Regions from separate parts of the Homo sapiens genome. Here region 1 is linked to region 2. Evidence: fine-mapped expression QTL. A gene starts in region 2. The other region holds a variant in brackets. All regions are shown on one strand. Distances are between the middles of the regions.

Region 1 (4,401 bases), 35 kb after region 2:
AGCATAATGAACCTGGTAGAGACATCACCTAGCATCAGGCACTCTCAGTTTATACACATCATGCCCTCTGTTTATTTTGAGGCAAATCCCAGACATCATAGCATTTCATCTGTAAACATTTTAGTACATATTTCTAAGTTACAGATACCTAAGAAAACCACAATTCCTAAAAAACCTGACAGTAATTCCTAAATATCAAATATATGTAGATGTGTCATATTTCCCCTATTAGCATACACCATAATCGATGTAAATATATATATACACTTATGTTTAAGTATTTGTATGTTTATTTTTAGTTTGTTTGAATCAGTTTCATACAAGGCCCATACATTGCAATTGATTGATCTGTTACTTTGTTTTAATCTTCAGTTTTCTGCTTCATCTCTTTTTTGCTTTTCTTTAATTTTTTTTGCTGAAGAAATTGGATGGTTTCATGTATGGTGTCCCACAATCTGGATTTTAATGATTTCATTCCCATAGTATTGTTTAACATGCCTCTCTGACCTCTGTGTTTTCTTCAAATAGTAATTAGGAGATTCAGGGTTTTTAAAAATTTGCTTGTTTTGTGGGGAGGCAAGACCACTTCCTAGTGGTGGAGTACCTCTGTCAAGGTTGCATAATGCCTTCATCGCTCTGTAATGTTAGCAGCTGTTGACAGTTACTGCCCAGATCAATTCAGTTACTCAGTTTTCAATATGGGGATCTCTTCTGTCTTACAGAAATGGCTTTCTGAAAAGTATCATTATAAACTCGTGGACGCAAATGTATGTGATGTGCTTGGTTTCATCCATGCCTGGTGGGAGTTTATTCAGGTGGACTTGTCAGTCCCTTTTTCATGCCACTAGAAATCTGATTGCTTCCTTGAGTTTCAGGATATTCCTAGATCACCTCGTACATTTCTTGCCCTGGGTCTGGTTTCAGCCATTTCTCCAAAAAGCCCTGATGTTTACAGACCACAGTCTGGGAGCCAGAGGTGCTTACTGCTCATTGTTTCTAGGCCCTTCTTTCAGTAGACAGTGCTGGGAAGTATGTCTTTTTTATTTTATTTTATTCTTTTAGAAACGAGGTCTTGCTATGTTGCCGAGGCTGGCCTTGAACTCCTGGGCTCAAGCAAGCCTCTCGCCTCAGCTTCCCAGGTAGCTGGGACTATAGGCGTGCACTACTGCACCTGGGTAAAGTATATGTTTGTAAAGATAATTTCATTGTGAAATCATGTTGATAGAACCAATCCATCATTGTACCTGTATCTCCTTTCAACCACACCAAAGATCTGACTTCTCTACTACCTCAACATAATTACTCCTTTGATTTATCCCACAGTACATACAACAGAGTAACAGGACCAGCACTACCGCTCCCACAGTATAATTATTGGAAACTCTGATGGTTTGTGGTTCTTTCTGTCCTTAGGGTATTAGAAATCTAGTCAAATTACTGTGTTTTAAAGTCACTTGGAGTAGTTCTCCTCTGTGTGGTTATGCCATCAACTAGATTTATAGTTAGATTTGTTTGTTTCATTTTACTTTTGATTTTTAGAAGTTGCTTTGGTGTGTTTTTTATTATATAAATGTTTACAAAGTTCCAAGACAGACGGATACAGCAAGATATCGTCAAAGAGGTCTAAGCTCACAGCTAGCTTTTTACCAAGTCTCCCTCTCCCATAGGTAACCTTTATTTTTAGGGTTTATTCTTTCATTTTAAAATACAACATAAATATGTAAATATTTGTATCTCCTCCTTGGCTAAATGGTAGAGTACTTTTCCTCACCTTGCTTTTTTTTTTACTTAATATACTAAAGTGATCACTTCAGAGTGTAGAGGTATTCCTCCTTCATTTTATAGCTGCGCACTATTCTGCTGTGTGGAGGTACCATAATGCGTTCCATCTATTGATGGACATTTGGGGTCTTTTTCAGTCTTTAGCTATTCCTGGGGACTTATATTTGTGTGTATGTGTGTGTGTTTTCAGTGTATCTGTTGGAAAGCTTTCTAGAGATGAGATAGCAGAGTCAAAGTATAAATGTGAGGTATTGCGATAGTCTCCCTTGATAAAGGTTGCACCATTTTATTTTTCCCCAGCAACCTATGAAAGTACCTGTTTCCCTCCAGCTTTGCCAACAGAGGATGTTGTCCAAACTTGTGTGTTTTTGCCAGTCTAGTACATGAGAAATGGTTTTTCAGTGTAGTTTTAATTTCCATTTCTCTTGTTTATGTGCATGGTTGAACATTTTTCACGTTTAAAAGCCATTTACATTTCTTCCGATGGGAATTATCTCTTCTTATCTCTAGGCCTTTTTTTTTTTTTTTTTTT[TA/A]GTATTCTTTATATGTTTGAGATACCAACTTCTCTGTTATATAAGTTTCAGGTATTTGTTTCCATATTTTACCGTGAAAAAGCTTTTTGAAAAATTTCGATATGATCTCACCAGGTGTGGTGGCATGTGCTTGTGGTCCCAGCCACAGGAAGCTGAGGCAGGAGGACCGCTTGAGCCCAGGAGTTGGAGGCTGTGTTGCTCTGTAATTGTGCCTGTGACTAGGCACTACACTCCAGCCTGTGCAACACACCAAGACCCCATCTCAAAAAGAAAAAGAAAATTCTGTATAATCAAATGTATCAATATTTTCAGGTATTGCTTCTTGAGTTTGAGTCATAATTAGGAAGATTTCTCTGTCTTCCAGGTTAAAGACAAATTCACCTGTGTTTTCTTCTAGTACCTGTGTGGTTTTTTTTCTTTTTTTTGAGAGAGTCTAGCTCTGTTGCCCAAGCTGGAGTGCAGTGGCACAATCTCGGCTCACTGCAACCTCCACCTCCCGGGTTCAAATGATTCTGCTGCCTTACCCTCCCTAGTAGCTGGGATTACAGGTGGGTGCCATCATTCCTGGCTAATTTTTTGTATTTTTTTGTAGAGACAGGGTTTCAGCATGTTGGCCAGGCTGGTCTCAAACTCCTGACCTCAAGTGATCCACCCGCCTCAGCCTCCCAAAGTGCTGGGCTTACAGGCCTGAGCCATCGCACCTGACCAGTTTCATTTCTTATACTGAAGAGTGTAAGGAATACATTCAATTTTATCTCTTTAAATTATTTATTTATTTATTTATTTTTGAGACAGGGTATTTCTCTGTCACCAAGGCCAGAGTGCAGTGGCACAATCTCAGTTCACTGCAACCTCCGCCTCCCCGGTTCAAGTGATCTTCCTGCCTCATTCCCCTTAGTAGCTGGGGAATAGTACCCGCCACCAAGGCTGGCTAATTTTTGTAGTTTTTGTAGCAACCGGGTTTCACCACATGGCCCAGGCTGGTCTTGAACTCCTGGACTGGAGTGATCTGCCTGCCTTGGCCTCCCAAAGTGTTGAGGTTACAGGTGTGAGCCACTGCGGCCAACCTCAATTTTATCTTTTTTATATAGCTGTCCAGTTATCCTAACAAACTGATTAAAGAGTCTATCTTTTCCTCACTGATGATGGCCTTTAATGTACACTAAATTTCCTAATGTATTGGGTCTGTCTCTGGATTTTCTGTTTTATTCTGTCAGTTCATTTGCCTATTCACGTGCCAATACCTAACTGTTTTAGTTATAAAGATTTGATAGGCTGGGCGCAGTGGCTCATGCCAGTAATCCCAACACTTCAGGAGGCCGAGGCAGGCAGATCACCTGAGGTCAGGAGTTCGAGACCAGCCTGGCCAACGTGGCGAAACCCCGTCTCTACTAACAATACAAAAATTAGCCAGGCATGGTGGTGCATGTCTGTAATCCCAGCTACTCAGGAGCCTGAGGCAGGAGAATCGCTTGAACCCGGGAGGCAGAGGTTGCAGTGAGCCGAGATGGTGCCACTGCACTCCAGCCTGGGCAACAGAGCGAGACTGTCTCGGAAAAAAAAAAAAAAAAAAAAGATTTTACTCCATTATCCTATGTTGGTTGTAGTGTTAGGATTGATGGGAAATAATAGTCAATAATCTTTATGATGCACTGTGTCTCAGCTACATGGGCATCTGGCTAAATGAACCAACCTTCTTAAGTTTTGTTCTGCTTGTAACTGGCACAATTATAAGCAAATTGAAAGATTACTTGTAACGCCTATCACACAGTACCTATATACAGATTCTATCTTCAGCATAGTAACCACCAGACTTTAAACCAGAGGTTTATAGTCTTAAACCCTGTCCTATGACAGTGCTTCTTGAAGAAGGTAAATAATTCAGCTACTCTTCACCACACATGGTTCCCTCTCCTTCTCCCAGCTTAGATAAGGGGGTGGATGAAACATAAAGGGTACACGATTGAAAATAATGGTTTTAAAAGGTGTGCCATTTACACATTTGTTACATGTGCCTGTTGACAGCAGTTGCACTCCTGCAGCACTACAGAAACAATAGACTTTATCACCTATTTGGCAAGAATAG
Region 2 (4,328 bases):
CAGTAGCAGTACATCATTAGAAAAGCCTGCACCCCATTTTCACTGGTCCTTTCAAGTAAGCTTCCAGTCATTGTCCAACCATCTCTATCTAAATCACCAAATTCTTCCTCATTTTCCAATTTGTTCTTGACATCATGAAAAACATAGCATAAGCACAGGAGTAGTCATGAAGACAGAGTTTGGATTTAAGAAGGAGAAATGAGAATGGAAATGAGATCACAGGCTCTTCAATTTCAACTCAGAAAGGCTTGAAAACATTTGTGTTTAGTACCACCGACAAGCCTATATCCTCTAACAAAAACTAATAAAAGCACATTTTACTTCTCTTTCGTATATTAGACTCATCTATTTTTAGCCCGTACTCGCTCAGAAGTAGGGGAAACTACCAGGATTCTCTTGGACAACGTTCCCAGAGAATTCATAAGCCCATTACTTTGGAAAGTATTGCCTTAGGACAGTGGTGGTCAAAGCATGCTTTCTGGGCCAGCAACAAGCTCGTTAAAAATGCAAGATTTCGGGCCACATTCCGGAACTACTGAACGAGAAACTGAGGACGGAGCCCAACAATCTGTGTTTTAGCAAGTCCCTCGACTCATTCTTAAGTACCTAAAAAGTTTGAGAACCACAGGTAAAAACTTACTGACATAATTAAGCTCTACGTGGCAAGAGGACCTGAAATTCAACAAAGATAGGGTACTAAGGGGAAAGCCATATGAAAAACAACAAAATACGCTACATAAACCCCAAGGAAACTTCCAGTAATTCTCTATCACTTAAAACATCACTTTTTTCCTTTCTCACTTTTCTCCTATTATCAGAGGCCACACCAGCTGGAAAAGAGCACGCACTACATGGAGAGCCAGGAGCCCTGAATTCTCCTCCCGGAAGTACCATTTACAGATGTTGTGACCTTAAACAAGTCACTTCATCTCTCTGGAACTGTTTTTATCATCTTTAAACGATTAGAAGGTGTGGAATGGACGGTTTCTCAGATGCTTTCCAGTCCTGACAGTCCATGATTTCTACATTCCATGTCTATTCCACGCTTCTTTCTTCCTCAGGTCGGGGCTTACACACAGGCAGGGGGTGTCGCCTGGGACTCCTCTTTACAAGCCATCGGGACTCAGATAGATAAGCCCTATTTCCCAAGCATTCCTGATATTCTACGGACGTCTCATTTTTGGAGAGGGGGCGAGGAGCAGGAGCGAGGAGACAGCTGCCTGGTCTGTGTGGGTGGAGAGTGACACAAACCCGGCGGGAGTGTCCGTGGTTGCCGAGGGCTACTTAAGGCAAGCTCGGGTGCAAGCGCCTCACCTGGGAAGGCCCACCCGCCCACCCTCCGATCCGGCGCGCCCAACCTGCTCCAGAGTGAGGAGAAGGAACTCCTGGGACAGCAGCTCCGGGTGCAGCAGCAGTTCCGAGTCCGTGCAGCTGCGACCGCCCACATCCCCCGCCATGGTCGTCGCCAGGAGACCCCAGTCGGCTACCCACAAAGCCCCGCGAAGGAAGCGTTGCGGAAGTGACGTACTCGGGCGGAGACTCGCGTGTGTCGTCACTCTGAGTCGCCGCATGCCGGGCTCCTTCTCTCGCTGCTGGTTCGGGTGTTGGGGCCTGGTCCCGCTTGCAAAAGCTCCCACGGACCAGAGAAAAGAGGAGGATGTCAGACGTAGAAACAAATGGCGTGTCAAGTTTCGCAGGAAGAGAGGGAAGAGTGAAGCTCCGGGAGCCAGCCACGATTAGTCGCGCCTTCTGTGACGTCCAATGGCAGAGGTCAAAGGGATTCCTGGGGCAACCTCGAGGGAAAGAATTCTGGCTCCGAGGGCCGGTGTACAGTGCTTTAAATATGGCAGTGGTTATGTGTGAAATTATCGTGTTTTTCTGTTTAACCTGTTTCTTGTCTCTTCATCGCCTTTCTATATAATGTAAGACCAGAGGCTTTATGTAGTGAATTCCCTGTAACCCCGGCTGCTTGGACAGATAGGTATTCAAGTATTTGTTTCTTGAAGTAATCCTCTGAATTAACTTGCTCACATGTAAAAAATAATAACGGGCTGGGAAACGCCAGTAATAGCCGCCAAACGTTTGTTAGACATTTACAGTGTGCCAGGGACTGCATTTTACGTGTATTATCACATTCCTCAGAACAGCCTAATGAGGTATATATTACTAGAATGCCTATTTTTCAGATGAGGAAACTGATGCATAGAAAGGATAATTTACTCAAGAGCGAGGAAGTAGCAAGCATAAAATCCAAGTACATTTTTTTCTGCATGTATTAATAGGTACAATGAAGTAACTTTTTAAATTGCTGTAGGTATCAATCATAGTCTTAATTCCCAGTAATTCACTTACTAAGAAATATTTTCTGCTTCTCTTTCATCATTCATGGGAGAGATACATATCCCTAAATATTTTGCACATTTAAAACTTAAACTTGGGTATGGTGGCTTATGCCTGTAATCACGGCGTTTTGGGAGGCTCAGGTGGGAGGATTGCTTGAGTCCAGGAGTTCCAGGCCAGCCTGGGCCACATAGTAAGACCCCGTATCTACAAAAAATAAAAAAAAAATTAACCGGGCATGGTAGTGTCTCTGTAGTACTAGCTACTCGGGAGGCTGAGGTGGTAGGATCACTGGCGCCCAGCAATTCCAGCCTGCAGTTAGGATTACCACACTGCACTTCAGCCTGAGCGGCAGAATGGGACCATGTCTGAAAAAATAAATAAAAAATAAAACTTGCAGGTATGTTCTGAATGTTTATTGTATGCATCCTCTATGAGGTATCATTTTATTGGAAATTATTGCATTGTCTACAAAAATATGAAGAACTCTGAAGATGCCAAAAGATAAACCGTGAAAGAGTACTAGAAGTGAGCTCCTCAAAAAGATAAAGCTGAGAAGTGTTTCCCAATTTTTCTTACTCATTTATGTATGTAATACTTTATGTCTAGAAACTGAATTTCAGAGCTGGGAGGGAACTTAAAAGTTAGTCCAGTTCTTTCATGTTAGTGCCAAGAAAGCTGATCAGAAAGAGATTAAATGACTTGCCCAAAATTGAATAGTCTTAAATCTGAGCTGAGGCAGGCGTCTGAATGTCTTAAATTGGAGTTAAATGTATTAGCGTCATAGTATTAACATCATCATATTCCATATCTCTCAAATCTGATTTGATTTTCATTACAATAGAGAAATAAGTGTGATTAGTATTATCCCCATTTCCTTCACCGGGAGGCACATTGTTTTAGTATCAAAAGCAGCTACCTTGGGAGAATCCGGGGCTAGAAACCTGACTTCATTTCAAGTTTTACTCTTGTTGCACCAAAACCTTGGGTGAGTTAGTTTCTCAGCCTCAGTCCCCTCATCAGGAAAATGCTGTGTTAGCACTTTCTGTGAAGAATGATCAAAGGAGTGGAGATTATGGAGATTATAAACACACTTGACACAGTAAGTGTTTAAGAACTGGTAGCTGATTTTTACAAAGTTATGGGTCATAGAAGGCAGTTTAGAGAAAAGGGCAGGCTTTGGAGTAGCTCAGTTGTATTATAACCTTGGCTTCTTTACTCACCTAGGACATACATTCTCTCTTTAGCTGTAGCTTCCTCCCTTCTGAGATGGAAATTATAAGCCATCTCACAGTGTTGTGAGGATTGGAGCTCAAGTGTGTAAAATGCCTCCTCTGTGGGCTCTCCTTGGAGAGTTCTTGTATCCTATTGATTGTCATCAAAGGAAAAAAGTGGCAGGATGATGGCATAAGTGGGAAGAACCTTGAGTTTAATAGTCTGAAAAAGTGGTTACAGGTTCTTGCTATGCTTTTCCTCTCTGTGGTTTTCTGAACCCATCGCCTAACCTGAAGCCTTAAACTTCATCTGCAAAAATGTTTTGTGGCAGGTAAGATGTCTTTTTTTTCTTCCAGTACTTCCCAGTTTAAAACTAAGAGTACTTCCTTGCTTATAACTAATTCTATTAATATTATTCTAGGTGACTCTGAAGCAGAACTCTTGAGATGGAAGGATTGTCATCTGAGGAAAAAAAATCAAGATTAAGAGAGGAGGAACTAGAATGAGATTCACATACCGTCTCTCCTCCAAGGGAAGGAGAGAGTGGTGATGCCTGCCCACTCCTTCCTGGGCAGAACATTTGTAGCATGGAACATTGGAGAATTTGCAGTCTGCTGACTTTCTGATTTAGGAGGTTGATGGGGAGGCCTTATAATTTGCATTTCTAACAAGTTCTGAGGTGATGCTTCAAGTATGTCCAGGCAGAAGGGCTGCCTCACAGAGAATTCTGCCATACCACATGGGAATTGAAGTCACAGACATCTCTAACCCTC

Direction of the effects. Alleles are on the strand shown, and positions count from the first base shown. SD is a standard deviation of normalised expression in the study named.
For the expression in subcutaneous fat of the gene that starts at base 1,552 in region 2, allele A in region 1 goes with a lower level than allele TA (small effect, 0.34 SD a copy in FUSION).

Evidence for each region. PIP is the estimated chance that this variant, and not a neighbour inherited with it, causes the effect.
Region 1: its variant is the best candidate, but not a certain one, in a credible set for the expression of C2orf49-DT in subcutaneous fat (FUSION, PIP 0.82).

What each region holds. Positions count from the first base shown.
Region 1 is chr2:105,299,924-105,304,324 of GRCh38, reverse strand. The region is part of intron 2 of TGFBRAP1 (transforming growth factor beta receptor associated protein 1); the gene reads left to right. Among named protein-coding and RNA genes, the nearest start is that of TGFBRAP1, 28 kb to the left of the region's middle. The variant TA/A (reference allele first, on the strand shown) is at 2,315.
Region 2 is chr2:105,334,717-105,339,044 of GRCh38, reverse strand. C2orf49-DT (C2orf49 divergent transcript) reads left to right here and starts at 1,552. Exons shown (of 2, transcript NR_187479.1): 1 at 1,552-3,886; 2 at 3,977-4,328. C2orf49 (chromosome 2 open reading frame 49) reads right to left here and starts at 1,505. Exons shown (of 4, transcript NM_024093.3): 1 at 1,359-1,505. The coding sequence starts at 1,457. RefSeq lists enhancers at 1,413-1,462, 1,473-1,862.